Homo sapiens: one gene and its partners. The protein of the gene in region 3 interacts with the protein of the main gene of each other region in a pairwise test. Each region holds a gene or a part of one and is shown on either strand. Other genes may lie near its edges.

Region 1 (7,038 bases), on a different chromosome or scaffold from region 3:
CTATAGTATGCTTCAGATCTAGCGTGAAGGTTTCTGGCTACCAAGTTAAAGAGGGTGACAGAGTTATATAATTCTTATTATTGGAAAGGAGCAAACCTTTCTTAACATTGAGCTCTAAAACAAATTTCCTACCTGTATGAGAGGCTTTGAGTGATAGGGTGGACATTATACTGTACACCATTCCTACGGCAAATAAGGTAATATTAATACTGTTTGACAGTCTTTTTTTTTTTTTTTTTTTTTTTTTTGAGACGGAGTCTCACTCTGTCACCCTGGCTGGAGTACAGTGGCACGTTTTCGGCTCACTGCAAACTCTGCTCCCGGGTTCAAGAGATCTCCTGCCTCAGCCTCCCGAGTAGCTGGGATTACAGGCGACTGCCACCACGCCCGGCTAATTTTTGTATTTAGTAGAGACGGGGTTTCACCATGTTGGCCAGGGGCCAGGTTGGTCTCAAACTCCGGACCTCAGGTGATCTGCCCACCTCAGCCTCCCAAAGTGCTGGGATTACAGGCGTAAGCCACTGTGCCTGGCCTTAGTTTCTTATGAAATTCACCTGATAATAATGATAAGCCCAACTTGGTGATGCCAGCTCTGTTCAGAGCTGAGATAATGCCCATCTATGTGGCCATCTGTTCTTTAGCTTAAATTCAGGGATAGAGCTCTTGGCCTTTTGACTGGTCCAGTAGAGCAGGCATTTCGAGATTGTGCTGTCAGGTGAGGGCCTGAACTGCTGTTTGCTGGGTGACTGGTTGAAGTAGTTGTCTATGCTACAGAGAAACTAAGTGACAGTTGGTCTGAATGACATGATTTGGGGAAAATTAAGGTGTCTAAGTAGGCGAGTTCACTGGATAGAGAACGGTAGAAGCACCTGCAGGCAAGGCCAGAAACATCTTGACATCTACTTCAATTAGAAAGTATTGATCAGCTTTTTGTTCACTACTTATTAAGATTTAAATTTACTGCCAAAGGTGTGCTAAGACAGGCACTTTTGTATATTGCTGGTGGGAGTATAAATTGGTAATAAACTTCTTAGAAAGCAGTTTGGCAATACATTTCAAGAGCCTTAAAAACATTCATGCCATTTGACCTAGTACTTCTACTTCTGGGAAAATGTCCCAAGGAAATAATCCTTTTTTTAAAAAAAGGTCTAAGCCTCGAATTTTGAGTGTTATTTGTAATGCTTCATTACTTCATTTATAGTATCAAGAAATTCGAGGCAATTTAAATGTCCCACAGAAGGAGAATAAACAAACATATTAACTCAAAGGAATATCATGATTTAAGCTAAAATCTTTTGAAGAAGAGAAGGAAAATTCTTAAAATGTTAAATGAGAAAAGCAAAAACAATATAAACAGTAGAAGTTAAACTGGTTTAAAATATGCTTAGAGGAAAAGACTGGTGAGAAATACACTAAATAAATCGTTGTGTGTGTGTGTGGATACTAAAGCATTTTTAAGAAAAACACTGTTGACCAGGTGTGGTGGCTCACTCACACCTGTAATCTCAGCACTTTGGGAGACCGAGGCAGCGGGTGGATGACCTGAGGTCAGTTTCAGATGACCTGAAACTCCGCCTCTAACAAAAATACAAAAATTAGCCAGGCATGGTGGTGCATACCTGTAATCCCAGATACTCAGGAGGCTGAGGCACAAGAATCACTTGAACCTGGGAGGCGGAGGTTGCAGTGAGCCAAGATTGTGCCACTGCATTCCAGCCTGGGCGATAGAACAAGACTGTCTCAAAAAAAGAAAAGAAAAGAAAAACACTGTTAATTTATGTATGGCATTTTTGAAAGGGAGACAAATACAAATTTATATTCCCTAGAGAAGGGTGATTTATAGTGGAGAGGGAATAATTAATAAACCTGTGTTCAGCTGAATTGCAGTTTTTGCCCCTAGACCTTCTAGTTCCATTTGTTTAAAGTTACTCTTAGCGCCTGTAATCCCAGCACTTTGGGAGGCTGAGGCGGGCAGATCACGAGGTTAAGAGATCGAGACCATCCTGACCAACATGGTGAAACCCCGTCTCTACTAAAACCACAAAAATGAACTGGGCATGGTAGCGCGTGCCTATAATCCCAGCCACTCGGGAGGCTAAGGTAGGAGAATCACTTGAACCCAGGAGGCAGGGGTTGCAGTGAGCCGAAATTGCGCCATTGCACTCCAGCCTGGGCGACAGGAGTGAAACTCCATCTAAAAACAACAACAACAACAACAAAAAGTTACTTTAGCTGGGCATGGGGGCTCACGCCTGTAATCTCAGCATTTTGGGAGGCCAAGGCAGGAGAATTGTGTGAGCTTAGGAGTTCGAAACCAGCCTGGGCAACATAGCAAGACGTTGTCTCTACAAAAACTTTAAAAAATTACCTGGGCAGGCCGGGCGCAGTGGCTCACGCCTGTAATCCCAGCACTTTGGGAGGCCAAGGCAGGCGGATCACAAGGTCAGGAGATCGAGACCATCCTGGCCAACATAATGAAACCCCATCTCTACTAAAAATATAAAAATTAGCCGGGCATGGTGGCTTATGCCTGTAACTCCAGCTACTCGGGAGGCGGAGGCAGGAGAACCCCTTGAACCAGGGAGTTGGAGGTTGCAGTGAGCTGAGATCGCCCCACAGCACTCTAGCCTGGCGACAGAGCAAGACTCCGTCTCAAAAAAAAAAAAAAAAAAATTACCTGGCACACCGTGTGGTCCCAGCTACTTGGGACGCTGAGGCGAGAGGATGGCCTGAGCCCAGGAGTTTGAGGCTGCAGTGAGAGATATGATGGCGTCATGTACTCCAGCCTGGGTGACAGAGTGAAATCTGGTCTCTTTTTTTTAAAAAAAGAAATCCTTTAATTCTCAGTTCTTTTCTTTTTACTTTTTGTTTGTTTGTTTGTTTGAAATCAAAGAAATCAAAGGCTTCCTCTATATGGGTGCTTTCCTTACAGGTGCCTAGGTAGTTATTGCTTCAACCTCATTAATCCCCCTCTCCCAGCAAAATGAAACTTAACATGTTAATAAGCAAAATATGATTTTCAAAATAGGTCTATTATAATAGAAATATGGAAGAGTACAATTCTGCCATTTTCCTAAATATTAAACATTATTTTACAAGAATGGCTTAAAACATAAGCCTTGTTTTGCAGTATATGAGCTTTCCATCTTCAATATATTTTTTTTTTTAAATTGGTTTCTAGAGGAAATCCACAACTGCATATTGTCCCATCTAAGTGTGATCTGGCTAAATATATTCACTAAATGTTTGACTTACTAATTAGCTCTGTTAGCTGTATTACACAATTATATAACCAGGTTTTATAATTCATTTATACATTTATTTATGTATTTATTTACTTTTACTCATTTATTCTGAGACAGGACCTCACTCTGTCACCCAGGCTGGAGTGCAGTGGCATGATCACAGCTCACTGCAGCCTCAACCTCCCAAACTCAAGCAATCCTCTTGCCTCAGCCTCCCTAGAACTGGTACTAGAGGCGTACGCTACCATGGCGAGCTAATATGTTTTTTATTTTTAGTAGAGACAAGGTCTCGCTATGTTGTGCAGGATGGTCTAGAACTCCTGGACTCAAGCAATTCTCCTGCTTCAGCCTCCCAGAGTGTTGGGATTACAGGCGTGAGCCACTGTTTCTGGCCATTTATTTTTTTAGTAACAGCTTTGTTAAGATATAACTAACTGCCAGGTGTGGTGGCTCACACCTGTAATCCCAGCACTTTGGGAAGCCGAGGCAGGCGGATCAGCTGAGGTCAGGAGTTCAAGACCAGCCTGGCCAATATGGTGAAGCCCTATCTCTACCAAAAGTACAAAAACTTAGCCAGCGATGGTGGCACATGCCTGTAGTCCCAGCTACTTGGGAGGCTGAGGCACAAGAATCACTTGAACCTGGGAGGTGGAGGTTGCAGTGAGCTGAGATTGCACCACTACACTCCAGCCTGGGTGACAGAGTGAGACTCGGTCTCAAAAAATAAATAAAGAAAATAATCAAAGATGATTCCAGTGTTATAACTTGAGGACATTGGGAGGATAATTGTGCCAGGGCTTGTAATGAACAAGGTGATAAAAAAAAAAAAAGGTTTTAAAGATAGTCTTTTATGTTGTTATGCTTGTTGGCAAAATATTCAAGTAGATAATAAAAGATACCTAACTTAACCATTAGATAGTGTATCAAGTCTGATGTCCATGAGCTTCCAGCACTCATTAGACACAAATAGGATTGATTTCTCATCCTTTGTTTCCTATTTGTTTTGAAACCCGTATTGTAAAATGAGTCTTATTTTAAAGATTAGGTAGTGGTTTTGCTTTCTCCATCTATACAGTAAGTGTAAAAAATACTGTACTTGGTCAGTGGTTTTGAGAGGTTTAAGAAAGGTACCTGGATCCCATGGTTTTATAATACCATTAAAAATATTATTGTTTTTAGGGAGAAAACTTTGTTTTAATGTGGACTACATTGAAAACTTAGTCTGTGTAACAATATAGACACCTTTCAGTTGCTCAAGACCGTTTTGACTCTAAACATTTAAGTTGGAATGTTTTAGAAAATATATTATATATCGAAACTTAGTACAGTACATTTATTTATCCATCCCAAAATTTCTTTCAGGAATTGTTCCATCTTCTGTTGTCCTGACTTCTTTCCAGGTGATGTCAAGAGTTTTTCTAATATGGGCAGTAACACATAGCGTCAAAGAGGTAAGTGTTTATATAGACCAAAATAATGTCAACACTAACAAACACTAGTCAACTTTTCTGATTCACATGTTTGTTATGGCTAAAGAGTTCCAGGTCAGAGTTCCAGGTCATGTCAATATAGCTGAGATAAAGCTCACATTCACTGTAGGAACTGGGTTAATAGTGGGAAACATATCCCAGATATGCAGTGTTGTTAAAAAGAAGACTGATTAAATGGTAAAGTCCTGTAATCTGAGTTCTCATGGAGGTTCAGATGGTGTGGATGTGGTCTGCAACTCAGTTATATTTTTCTGATATCTTGTTCGTATCATGTTGCCCAGGCCGCTCTCGAACTCCTGAGCTCAAGCAATCTGCCTGCCTCACTCTCCCCAAATTCTAGGATTTCAGGCATGAGCCACCACACCTGACCCAAGTCATCATTTTAAACCTATACAGTAGTTCCCTCTTATCCAAGGGGAATACATTCCAAAACCCCCACTGGATACCAGAAACAGCGGCTAGCACACAACCCGATTGCTGCTGACCGAAACACGTTTCTGTTTATGCCTTCTACCCGCAAATGTAATGCCTTTTACATATTTACTAAGCATTTATCATGCCCTGTGGCCGCAACTTTTGCAGTTTGAGGTTCACCAGCAAAACAAGCACAAATTTCTTTTTCCTTCACAATTTCACAAATATAAGATTTGTTCCTACTGTAGGACTTAGCAACTTTAGCATACAGTTTGTTTTGTTTCGTTATTAAGCTGAGAACTTTTACTGTCTCGCTTCAAGGAAGTTCTTTATGGCTCCTCTTTGGCATATCTGAATTGCCAGCATCACTACTCTTGCATTTTGGGGCTGTTTTTAAATAAAATAAGGGTTACTTGAACACAAGCACTGATAACCAAGTTAGCTACTAAGTGATTAATGGGCCAGTAGCATATACAGTATGGATACACTGGACAAAGGGAAGATTCGTGTCCTAGGTGGGATAGAGTGGGACAGCATGAGATTTCATCATGCTGCTGAGAACAGTGTACAACTTAAGAATTAGGAATTGTTTCTTTCAGGAATTTTCCATTTAATATTTTTGGACTGTGGTTGACCAGGTGTAACAGAAGCTACGGAAAGTGAAACTTCAGATAAGCAAGGACTGCGATATTTCTTCCTCTCATACTTTTGTGTAGATACCATTTCCTTTTCATTTTAACCAACAACTCATAATTTTATCTTCCAATAGTCTCCAATGACCTAAAACTTCTTCCTAGTAGTAACTCATTTACATTCTTAAATAGATAATTAATGTACTTTCAGTAATTAAGTGCTAGGTACATGAAGTCAAAGTATTGTTCACTATGAAATATCCAATCACTTTGCCAATATAGTCAAATATTAATTGTCCAGGTGCTAATCCACCAGTTGATAGATTCTTCATGGGCTCTGCTTCCTCCCTTCCACTTAGTGACCACTCCTCAGCTATGAGCACATCTGCCAAAGCAGGTAGACAGGTACGTCAAAAATGCTTTACAACTCAAATCAGGCAATTCTATTAGTCAAGTTGCTGTTAGCAACATTTGCCAGGATTTCCTGTGTAGATCATTGAAACTGGTTGGCTTGCAAAGCTATTAAATGTCTCTGTGGATTATAGGTACATGGACTTGGTGTCATCCTCCATAACCATGCTGCCTGCCAGATGCAAAGGACTTAACATATAACAGACGGTTTCACATACATTATCACATTTGAGCTTTACAGTAATTTGTTATATACTCATTACATTTCCATATTCAAAATTGTTTCTCTACAACCAGAGTGACTCAATTTCTGCTAACATTAACATATCATTTTCTTTACCTGCCAAAAAAAAAAAGGAAAAGAAAAAGAAAAGGCATATCATTTTCTGAAGTATGTAGTACATTCTTCAGTATATTTTATTGTCTTCCCATCGCCTCTTGGATCCTCTTGTTTTTACATATGCACTGTTGATGAATTGACTTACTCTTTTCACTTGTAATTGGACTTCAGCGTTTCTGCTGTCCTAGGATCATGGTTCTTTTCTCCTCATTCTCTTTTTCTCTGCACAGAACTCCTCATTCATCGTTTTGTTTAGAGCAGTAGGTGCCCTCCATCCCTGCCCTACGTCTTCGACAGCTAACTTGAAAAGCCTGTTGCTGTGGCCCCTCAGAGGCCAGTACTTGCTATATGTCACCTTGAAAAGCCTGTTGCTGTGGCCCCTCAGAGGCCAGTGCTTACTATCTGTCACCTTGAAAAGGCTGTTGCTGTGGCCCCTCAGAGGCCAGTGCTTGCTATATGTCACCTTGAAAAGGCTGTTGCTGTGGCCCCTCAGAGGCCAGTGCTTG
Region 2 (2,697 bases), on a different chromosome or scaffold from region 3:
CTATAAAATTTGTTAATACTAAGACGTCTCAAATGTGTTTGGGAAGGGGATATTAACATTTATTAGTAAGAATTAGCTGGAGTCCTCAGAAGCACAGGAAGGAGCTGGAGTGCAATCAACGGGTGATTAGAGGACAGAGGACACAGGACATTGGTCATGAGGGGGTGGCATGTGGACGTCGTCAGGAATTATCTATTTCCACATTTCTCAACTCTCCTTTAGGGGCATTTGAAGCCCACCCCAGACGAAGTATAACCAGCCCTTTACAGCTCAACACCCCTCCCCCACACTCCCAATCAGTTTGAGCATTTCTGGTTGACATTTACTGCATAAAAACTTATCCTTGACAGCTCTCTATATAATCTACATAGCACAAACAGAGGCCAACGAACAAATTTTTTAAAGTGAGCTCTGTACATATTCTACATGTTATAAAATGAGAAGCAGGCAAACAAATTTTTAAAAACACAGCGGTTAATAAAACATTAATTGAATCAGGACACAGCAAAGTAGCACTACAAACACTTTTTTTAATGACATCAGATGGTACATTTATACAAATTACAAGCTACAATATAGTGAATACAAAATCCATCCAGAAAACGGTTAGAAAAGCATCACTTAACAGAAGTAAATCGGATTCAAGTAGCTAAAGAACTCAAGCCCCCCATTTTGATGATTATACACGGCTTGAAATGCAGCACATCCAAATCCTCCCCCTAGTCAGGGCACTATTCAATACTACAGCATATTCAATGACTCTAGTGATGTAAAGATTCTAACACTTTTAGCATCGACGTCAAGAGACATCTCGTAACAGGTTCACTATGCAAAACTCAAATGAGAATGTGTGAACGTTCTTTGCAAACTGTAAGGTGCTGTGCAGATGTTGTTAGCTATTGCTATTATTACTGTTCAGTGAGATTACACTGAACGTGGGGAAAAGGAAGACTACTCTGTATAACTGACAAATATGACTTACAGAACATCTTAAAAGGAATGCAGATATTACTTTCAAATACACATAGCAACAACACAGGCAAGGAAAGTGTGGCCAGGAGTGATGTCGAGGAATTCCTATTTTAAGGAATATATAAAGGATTAAGCTATTCATAGATTATGTGTAATATTTATCATTAGATTCCCAAAGTCCCTGAAAATAATTTATTTTTAAGGTGACCCTTTCCCCCTGAAAAGGGAAAAAGAAATCTTGTCAGGTTACTAATGTGCTGCTTCAGCCAGCTCTTGTAAAAATTATCTTAAACATAGGAGTACAGTCTGAATTAATAGTTATACTAATCTGGTGGGTGACACAGAGTGCTTGACAGCAGAGAAACCTGCCACTGACCTCAGACAAGTGACAAATTCTGTGTCAGAGTTGAACCATAAGTTTACAACTTCACTTGGGCATAAATTAAACAATAAACATGAACTTGTCTAGAGATAAGAAATACACACTAGGTACATCTAAAATCGGATTTAAATCCTTTTTATGTACTTTCGGGTTTCATCTTTCTTTGTATATACCCTACTTGTTTAACTGATTTTAGTGGTCTCCTTGGGTATTCTAACTGTATACATAAAATTGACATGAAAATGGAAAACAAACGCCAAACAAGTCAATTGGTTGTTTCTTTTGGCAAAGCTGATGACATTTTCATGATGAAAATGTTCCAATTATTAGGCCAGGCACGGTGGCTGATACCTGTAATCCCAGCACTTTGGGAGGCGGAGGCGGGTGGATCACCTGAGGTCAGGAGTTCGAGACTAGCCTGGCTAACATGGTGAAACCCCGTCTCTACTAAAAATACAAAAATTAGCCGGGTGTGGTGGCACGCACCTGTCATCTGAGGTACTCAGGGGGCTGAGGCAGGAGAACTGCTTGAACCCGGGAGGCGGAGGTTGCAGCGAGCCGAGATTGCGCCCTTGCACTCCAGCCTGGGCAAGAAGGGCAAAACTCCGTCTCGAAAAAAAAAAAAAGAAAAAAGAAAACAAAATGTTCTAATTATTACAATGTATTTCTGTTAGATTTCCATGAAACATGGGGATTTTTAATGGCAGGTTTAAATTTTTTTTCACTAACAACCCCAAACCAAATTCTACTGTTATATGTACAATGGTATCCATTTGAAGAACTAATGACATCAGATACATTCTACAGCAGACTTTTCATTTCTCAACACAAATGAGAAAAAGGACTACATTCTCCAGGGCCAAACAGGAGGTGAGGAAGGTAATGTGTTACCGTAAATAGGGTTAAATCAGTAGTTTGGACTGACACTTCAAGTTATATCTCCTAACTGAGGTTATTCTTACAATCAGTTTTCAAACAATAGGGAACATATTTCTACCTTAAAACATGTATAAGGGCTCAACTGTAGCTTTCCTTTCTATACATCTTGAAGTATATACATTGTGTAAAAGGAAACTAGTGAGACATTTTGAAAAATAAATCTATTTGCCAAATACCATATGTTATTTAACATAGTTAAAAACAGCAGCAAACTAGTGAGTTAACAGTTAAAACTCTAGGAAAAAACTGCTTTGAAAACAAGCCTATTTTGTTATAAGCCTAAATATCAACCCTAGCATTTGATTTTAACCTTCAAACATTTGGCGCTTTTTCCAAGAGGAAATTACAACTGCCTTTGCATATGCCCCTGGTTTAAATACTTGCAGAAAAATACCCATGTATCA
Region 3 (7,925 bases):
TGGCAAAGGTTGGCAGAGAATAACAAACAACACAGCAAAATAACAATTTATTTTTTCCTTCAAGGTCACTTTGAACAGTGAGTTTGAAGCTTCCCTTTTTTTTTTTTTTTTTTTTTTTGAGACAGACTCTCGCTCTGTCATCCAGGCTGGAGTACAGTGGCATGATCTCAGCTCACTGCAACCTCTGCCTCCAAGTAGCTGAGATTACAGGCGTGTGCCACAACACTCGGCTCACTTTTGTATTTTTAGTAGAGACAAGGTTTCTCCATGTTAGCCAGGCTGGTCTTGAACTCCTCACCTCAAGCGATCCGGCCACCTCAGCCTACCAAAGTGCTGGGATTACAGGCGTGAGCCACCATGCCTGGCCAAAGCTCCCCCTTCTTTCTGGGAGAGAAAAGGATTAAGTACGGTGGAGCATATTCTCCAGTCCAAGTCTTGGGCCTCAGGCTGTGCCCAGCTTCCTGGAACAAAAGCACGCACCCCCAGGGTGCTCAGAGGCCTACTTTATCTGACTGTTAACTAGCAAAACTAAACCAACTACATTTGCAAAATGCCATATGGATGTTCCAAACTGCATGTTTCAAGCTGGACATGGTAGCTTTTTTTTTTTTTTTTTTTTTTCTTCAAACAGGGTCTCTGTTGCCCAGGCTGGAGTGCAGTGGCCTGATTTTTGGGCTCACTGCAGCCTCAACCTCCTGGGCTCAAGCCATCCTCCTGCTTCAGCCTCCCGAGTAGCTGAGACTACAGTAGTGGGACTACAGGTTTAGATATAGAGTTTGAGAGGGGAATCCACATCAGAACTTCATTCTAGAATGAAAACTTAAATGACAGAGATTATTGAATACAAACCTCCTCATTCTTGATACCATGTCAAAAATTACAGGATTTGTGGGTTAAAGGCTTCTAAGGGGCTAGGCACCGTGGCTCATGCCTGTAATCCCAGCACTCTGGGAGGCCAAGGTGGGTGGATCACCTGAGGTCGGGAGTTCGAGACCAGCCTGACCAACATGGAGAAACCCTGTCTCTACTAAAAATACAAAATTAGCCGGGCATGGTGGCTCATGACTGTAATTCCGGCTACTCAGGAGGCTGGGGCAGGAGAATCACTTGAACCCGGGAGGTGGAGGTTGCGGTGAGCCAAGATCACGCCATTGCACTCCAGCGTACTCAACAAGAGCGAAACTCCGTCTCAAAAAAAGGCTTCAAAGGATTGTGGGTAAATTTCCAAAAATAGTAGCAATAAAGGGGGCAGGAGGCAGAGGTAGTAATATTCAACTTGTCAATAAAAACAAACAGCCGGGCGCACTAGCTCACACCTGTAATCCCAGTACTTTGGGAGGCCGAGGAGGGCAAATCACTTGAGGTCAAGAGTTTGAGGCCAGCCTGGTCAACATGGTGAAACCCCCATCTCTACTAAAAATACAAAAAATTAGCCGGGCATGGTGGCGGTCACCTGTAATCCCAGCTATTCAGGAGGCTGAGGCAGGAGAATCGCTTAAACCCAGGAGGCGGAGTTTGCAGTAGGCCGAGATCGCGCCATTGCACTCCAGCCCGGGCAATAAGACCGAAACTCTGTCTCCAAAAGAAAAAAAAAATCCTTCTACGTATCCAAGGTACCTAGAGTAGTCAATTCATTAAGACGGAATGGTGGCTGAGTAGAATGGTGGCTGCCAGAGGTGGAGGTGGAGAGGAATGGGGAGTTAGTATTTAACGTCTACAGCTTCTGTTTTCCAAGATGCAAAGAGTTCTGGAGATGGGTGGTGGTGATGGTTGCACAACAATGTGAATGTTCTTAATGCCACTGAACTGCACACTTAAAAATAGTCAAGATGGTAAATTTTATGTGTATTTTGCCAGAATTTTTTAAATTGGAGGGGAAGTGAGAAACAAGAAATCGCTCGACCTGCTATTTTTCATTTGAGGACCAGCATGGCATAGTGGCTAGGAACTAAGACCTTGGCGTCCTGAGTTCCCCTATCTGTTTTGCATTTACTAACTAGGGGCCTTTGAACAAGTCACTTTATATCTCTGAGACTTTATTCATCCTTACAAACAGGAATAATAATAGTTCTTATACAAGGTAACAGAATCTCACCAGCACAAGAGTAAGCACTTGCTAAATTGTTATTTTGAATTTTAATAACAAATTTTATTATTTGATGATAGTTACTTAAAAGTCAGCAATAATTCAGGGATAATTGGTTGAATTATTAATATTATATTATCACCTAGGGCGATAAGCACATCAGAAGACTTCGTTTTAAGGGAAAAAGAGACCCAAGTTAGGAGTCAGAAGACTTGGGCTTCAAGAGTGGCTGTGGGTGGGTATAAGATTTCTCCTTGGTGACACCCAAGGGTTGACGTAGATGACCTCTTTGATAACCAGAAAGCAAGATCAGCTTCGCTGCTCTGCGAAAGCCAGCCGTGGAGCTGCACCTCCCTCACCGCCTAAGTCTCCCGGGAACGTCCCGGGCGAGGGAAGGGGTCCAAAGGTCGTACACAAGAATACTGATAGCAAAGCCCCTTCCTACGCTGGTGACGGCGGCGTGGCGCAAGATTTGTGCAAGACTCCCTCGGATTGGGAGCAAGGGTCCCGCACCTTCGTGGCTCCCATGACAAAGTCTGCAACTCAGCCCGCTGGGGGAGCTGCAAGGAACCTGCAAGCGTCCCAGCCCCTGCAGAGACCCCCAAGAAAAAGTACCCCCAAAACAGCCTGGGTTGCAGATTTATAAATACTTCCTGCGCACATGCGCATTGGAATTTACGAGTGGCCCGGGGCGCAACGCTTGCCCACTGCGCCTGCGCCGTCTGGCTCTTCCTTCGGGGCACAGGACCAGAAAGTGGGGTCCCGTGGTCCCGCAAAGAAGGAAAAAGAATGGGTCAGCAGTGGCCACACGGCCCCTGTTTCTCGCTTCTTACCTCGTAATGCTTCATGGCTCCCTCCCACGGCGGCTACTGCTCCGCGGCTGCTGCTGCCTAACTGCGCGGCACAGCACAGGCTCCCTACAGCGCTCGCAACCGCAGCGATAGACTAAACGCGGCTCTGCGTCCGCCCCGCCCCTCCAGGCCGCGCGCGCCCCGTCGGCCAATCAGGGCACGAGGCGCCCACGTTCGCCCCTGCTCCTTGGGGCCGGTCCGAACCAAGACTAGGACTAGCACCAGGGGATTGACCAATCAACTTGCGAGACCAATCGAAGGGGGCGGAACGCCTGTAGGAGGGGCTAAAGAGAAGGGGCTTGACCATCCACCAATCCAAAGGAGGTCTCTGCCCCGCGCGTCCCTTTGCCACGCCCCCTGATGGCGTCGCTGTGGAAACCAAGGTAAGCGACGGTTAGGCCAGACGCGGGGGCGGGGTAAGAAGTTGAGTGACAGGCAAGGCAGCATCCACATGACAGGCGGCGCCGAAGGGGTAAATTCTGAGGTGGGCGGCCCCCGGGGTACACCGGGAACAGCAGGAGAGGGCTAGGGGCTGGGGTCGCGGGCTGCGGAGTCTGGTTGGCGAGGAGGTCACTATGGGAGGAGACTCTTGAGTGGGAGGGAAGGAAAGGCGAAACGGAGTCGCGAAAAGCTCCCCATTTGGGAACCCCCAACCTGCAAGAACCTTGAGCCCCAGCCCCATTCTGGGGTGGCTTCACTGCCGTTTTTAATGAAAGCCCCGCCCCACTTTGTTTTTCTGTTTTGTTTTGTTTTTGAAACAATCTCGTTCTGTCCCCCAGCTGGAGTGCAGTGGCGCAATGACGGCTCACGCAACCTCCGCCTCCCGGGTTCAAGCGATTCTCATGCCTCAGCCTCCCAAGTAGATGAGATTACAGGCACCCGCCACCACGCCCGACTAATTTTTGTATTTTTTTTAGTAGAGACGGGGTTTCCCCATGGTTGGCCAGGCTGGTCTTGAACTCCTGACCTCAGGTGATCCTCCCGCCTCAGCCTCCCAAAGTGCTAGGATTACAGGCCTGAGCCACCCCGCCCGGCCCCCCTCCACACTTTGCTCCGCCCTATGGACAGGGGAACTACATTGGTCTCTGCCTGACGTCCAGAATCGTGTCTAGTGGCTCCAATGGGGCCACTGAGCCCTTGAAATGGGGCTGGTCCAGGCCGGGAACGATGGCTCACACCTGTAATCCTAGCACCTTGGGAGGCCGAGGGGGGCAGATCACGAGGTGAGGAGTTCGAGACCAGCCTGGCAGATATGGTGAAACCTCATCGCTACTAAAAATACAAAAATTAGCCGGGCGTGGTGGTACACACCTGTAGTCCCAGCTAATCAGGAGGCTGAGGCAGAAGAATTGCTTGAACCCGGGAGGCGGAGGTTGCAGTGAGCCAAGATCTCGCCACTACACTCCAGCCTGAGCAACAGACCGTCTCAAAAAAAAAAAAAGAAAAAAGAAAAAGAAATGGGACTGGTCCAAATTGAGATGTGCTGTAAATGAAAAACACATAAATTTCTGGCCAGGCACGGTGGCTCACACCTGTAATCCCAGCACTTCGGGAGGCCAAGACAGGCAGATCACATGAGGTCAGGAATTCAAGACCAGCCTGGACAACGTGGTGAAACCCTGTCTCTACTAAAAATACAAAAATTAGCCAGGTGTAATGGTGGGCACCTGTAATCCCAGCTACTAGGGAGGCTGAGAATCGCTTGAACCCGGGAGGTGGAGGTTGCAGTGAGCCAAGATCGCACCACTGCACTCCAGCCTGGGCGACAGAGTGAGATTCTGTCTCAAAAAAAAAAGAAAAAAAAAGAAAAGACTTTTGACAGACAAAGGAACAGGCAGTACCTGGCACACTTCTTCACCTCCTCTCCTTACTCTTGTTTCCAGATCCTGCCCCTGAGCTTTCATGAGCTGTTGAACCATCTGGAATTCACAGGCCTGTCATGAGAGACACGATGAGAAGTCCTTAAAGGTAGATCACTGATTCACAGGGGAGCAGGCGGAGGCAAGGGTGAGTCAGTGCTTGGAACTCAGTCATCCAGATTTGGCTCTGGAAACTTCTGAAGCTGTAGCCTTTGGGGATCCCTGACTGCGAGTACAGGAAGCCAACGCTATGTGGTCTTCTGGAAACTCATTATCTTTTTCACTGGTGCTATCTGGGAAAAACAGATGAAAACCTGAAGGTGTTCTGTATGTGTGCTTTCAAAAGCAAGGATCTGGCCGGACGCAGTGGCTCAGGCCTGTAATCCCAGCACTTTGGGAGGCCGAGGCAGGAGGATCACCTGAGGTCAGGAGTTTGAGACCAGCTTGGCCAACATGGCGAAACCATCTCTACTAAAAGTACAAAAATTATCTGGGTGTGGTGGTGGGCACCTGTAATCACAGCTACTCAAGTAGCTGAGGCAGAAGAATCAGTTGAACCCAGGAGGCAGAGGTTGCAGTGAGCAGAGATCACACCACTGCACTCCAGCCTGGGTGACAAGAATGAAACTCCGTCTCAAAAAAAAAAAAAAAAAAAAAAAAAAAAAAAAAGCAGAGATATTTTTCTGGTGGCAGTTTGAGTTTTGAGGCCTTCTGTGTCATGACAGGCCTCACTCCCTGCCCTTCTTGGGTGCTGGGGGAGAGTATTTGCTTCCAGGCCACAAGTTAATTTTTTAGTAGAGATGGGATCTCATTATGTTGCCCAGGCTGCTCTGGAACTCCTGGCCTCAAGTGATCCTCCCTCCTCGGCCTCCCAAAGCGCTGGGATTACAGGCATGAGCCATCCCACTCGGCCTGAGACCACAGTTAAAATCCTATCAGATTGAGTTACCTGAGGTACTTGATTGTGAGGGGCCATGGGGATAGGGTTGAAACCCTAAGACCCATCCATGTGTTGCTCCTTCACCAGTTATGCAAATTTTCAACTTATTTAATGTGATCTGAAGAGGTGAGTCTTCCATCTCTGGGTTGCAGTTAGATAGGGCATGATGGTGTACAAGTAGGTGTCATTTTGAAGAGATTCCATACATATTCCCATAAACTCAGAACGTTTTGGAAATTCCCTTTTGAGACTGCTTTTCTGAGCCCCACACTTACTCAACAGGCACCAAATCATCCTCATGCACCTACTATGCTGCGTGTCAACCGGAACATACAAATAATTTCCACCCCCTCCTCACCCATAAGAAGCTGGCAGAAAGGCAAGATCCAGCCTCCAAAGTAGAATTCCTCTTTGTTTTTGAGGGGTGTTGCAGGCTTGAGGAACCCCTTGTTTGCCCATCTGGCTTCCGGTAACCAGGCTGTCAGCAGAAATGAAACCCACCCTTGGAATGAAGACTGGCCACTTTGTTCAAGCCACTGAGGACACTGTACTGTGGCCCCCTGACAGTGCCTGTCTGTAGGGACAGCTAGATCCTGCTGGTCCCTTCACAGTCCCAGCAGTGGCTGATTCACAATGGTGACTGGTAGATCTGTTGGGTCGTTGTTGAGCTGATGGTAACTAGCTCCTTTATTAAAGTAATTTCCAAGGGAGAAACTGCAAGAGACGGCCTAAGCTGCGGCAGCTTCCAAGGATGAGCTTTTCTGGACCTCAGGTTTGGGGGGAACCCGAGACCATTTGAATGCCAGAGATGTGATGTGTTTGGTAATGTCGTGTCTCACAAGCTCCTTTTGTATTTCCCATGGGCAGATCAGGTCGGATCTTGACTTTTTCCAGAACCTGGCTTGGCTGGTTTGGGTTGTGTATGAATGAGCTGGCTCGCTGGGTGTGTGAGGGGAGGTGAAGCTGGGACTAGACAAGCCAGGGCTCGTTAGCAAGTTTCTGCTGTGTCAGGAATCCCAGAGAGAGGTTTCCCAAGCCCTATCCTGTCTTGCCTGGGTTGTTTGGTTTTTCTCCTTCTTTTTTTTTTTTTCATTGAAGTGTAATTGACATGTAGTAAAATTCACCCATTTTAGTGTACAGCTCTGAACACATACGGTCATGCAACCACCACTACAATCAAGATACAGAGCATTTACACCAACCCAAAAAATTCTCCAAACTACTCCATTTGTTGCAGGTCCCAGCCCCTGGCAAGCATTCATCTGCTTTCTGTCCTGATACTTTTGCCTTTTCCAGAAGGTTGAGTGAAATGGAATCATGCAGCCTTTTGAGCCTGGCTTCTTTCACCCACATAATGCATATGAGGTTCATCTGTAATGTTGTTTTTTTGTATCCGTAGCTCATTCCTTTTTATAGCTGAATAGTATTCCATTGTGTGGATGGATCCCATTTGTTTATCCATTCATCCATTGAAGGACAGTTAGGGTTTAACTGCTGTTGGTAATAACTAATAAAGCCTCAGCAAACATTCGCTCATGAGACTCCATCTCAAAAAAAAAAACAAAAAAAGTAGATTTTACCCTGCTGGTGTTGCTATGTTGATGAAATTGAGAGGAGCCAGGAAATGAACATTATAATAGTATCTTTTTTATTTTTATTTTTGAGATGGAGTCTCGCTCTGTCACCCAGGCTGGAGTGCAGTGGCGCAATCTCGGCTCACTGCAACCTCCACCTTCTGGGTTCAAGCGATTCTCCTGCATCAGCCTCCCGAATAGCTGGGTTACAGGTGTGCACCACCATGCCCAGCTAATTTTTGTGTTTTTAGTACAGACGGAATTTCACCATGTTGGTCAGGATGGTCTCCATCTCTTGACCTTGTGATCCTCCCGCCTCGGCCTCCCAAAGTGCTGGGATTACAGGCATGAGCCACCGCACCCAGCCATGAATTTTTATATATGAACAAAGGTTTTCATTTCACATGGGTATCCCACTGGGAGTGGGATTGTTGGCTCATATGGCTATAGCGCTTTTTGAAGGTCTTTTTTTTTTGAGAACGAGTCTCGCTCTGTTGTCCAGGCTGGAGTGCAGTGGCACCATCTCGGCTCATTGCAACCTCCACCTCCTAGGTTCAAGTGATTCTCCTGCCTCAGCCTCCCAAATAGCTGGGATTACAGGTGCACGCCACCATG

Evidence for each region. Proteins that work in one complex are often made in the same cells at the same time.
Region 1: the proteins of TECR (region 3) and HACD2 interact in binary tests that used the Homo sapiens proteins (3 or more experiments, as listed by UniProt).
Region 2: the proteins of TECR (region 3) and VMA21 interact in binary tests that used the Homo sapiens proteins (3 or more experiments, as listed by UniProt).

Annotation. Positions count from the first base shown.
Region 1 is NC_000003.12:123,526,044-123,533,081, reverse strand, and holds part of HACD2 (very-long-chain (3R)-3-hydroxyacyl-CoA dehydratase 2), read left to right. Parts: intron 1-4,607; coding exon 4,608-4,696; intron 4,697-7,038. UniProt on the Homo sapiens protein: Catalyzes the third of the very long-chain fatty acids (VLCFA) elongation four-step cycle (condensation, reduction, dehydration, and reduction).
Region 2 is NC_000023.11:151,407,178-151,409,874, reverse strand, and holds the end of VMA21 (vacuolar ATPase assembly integral membrane protein VMA21), read right to left. Parts: 3' UTR 511-2,697; downstream 1-510. UniProt on the Homo sapiens protein: Required for the assembly of the V0 complex of the vacuolar ATPase (V-ATPase) in the endoplasmic reticulum.
Region 3 is NC_000019.10:14,524,706-14,532,630, reverse strand, and holds the start of TECR (very-long-chain enoyl-CoA reductase), read right to left. Parts: upstream 3,038-7,925; 5' UTR 2,935-3,037; coding exon 2,920-2,934; intron 1-2,919. UniProt on the Homo sapiens protein: Involved in both the production of very long-chain fatty acids for sphingolipid synthesis and the degradation of the sphingosine moiety in sphingolipids through the sphingosine 1-phosphate metabolic pathway.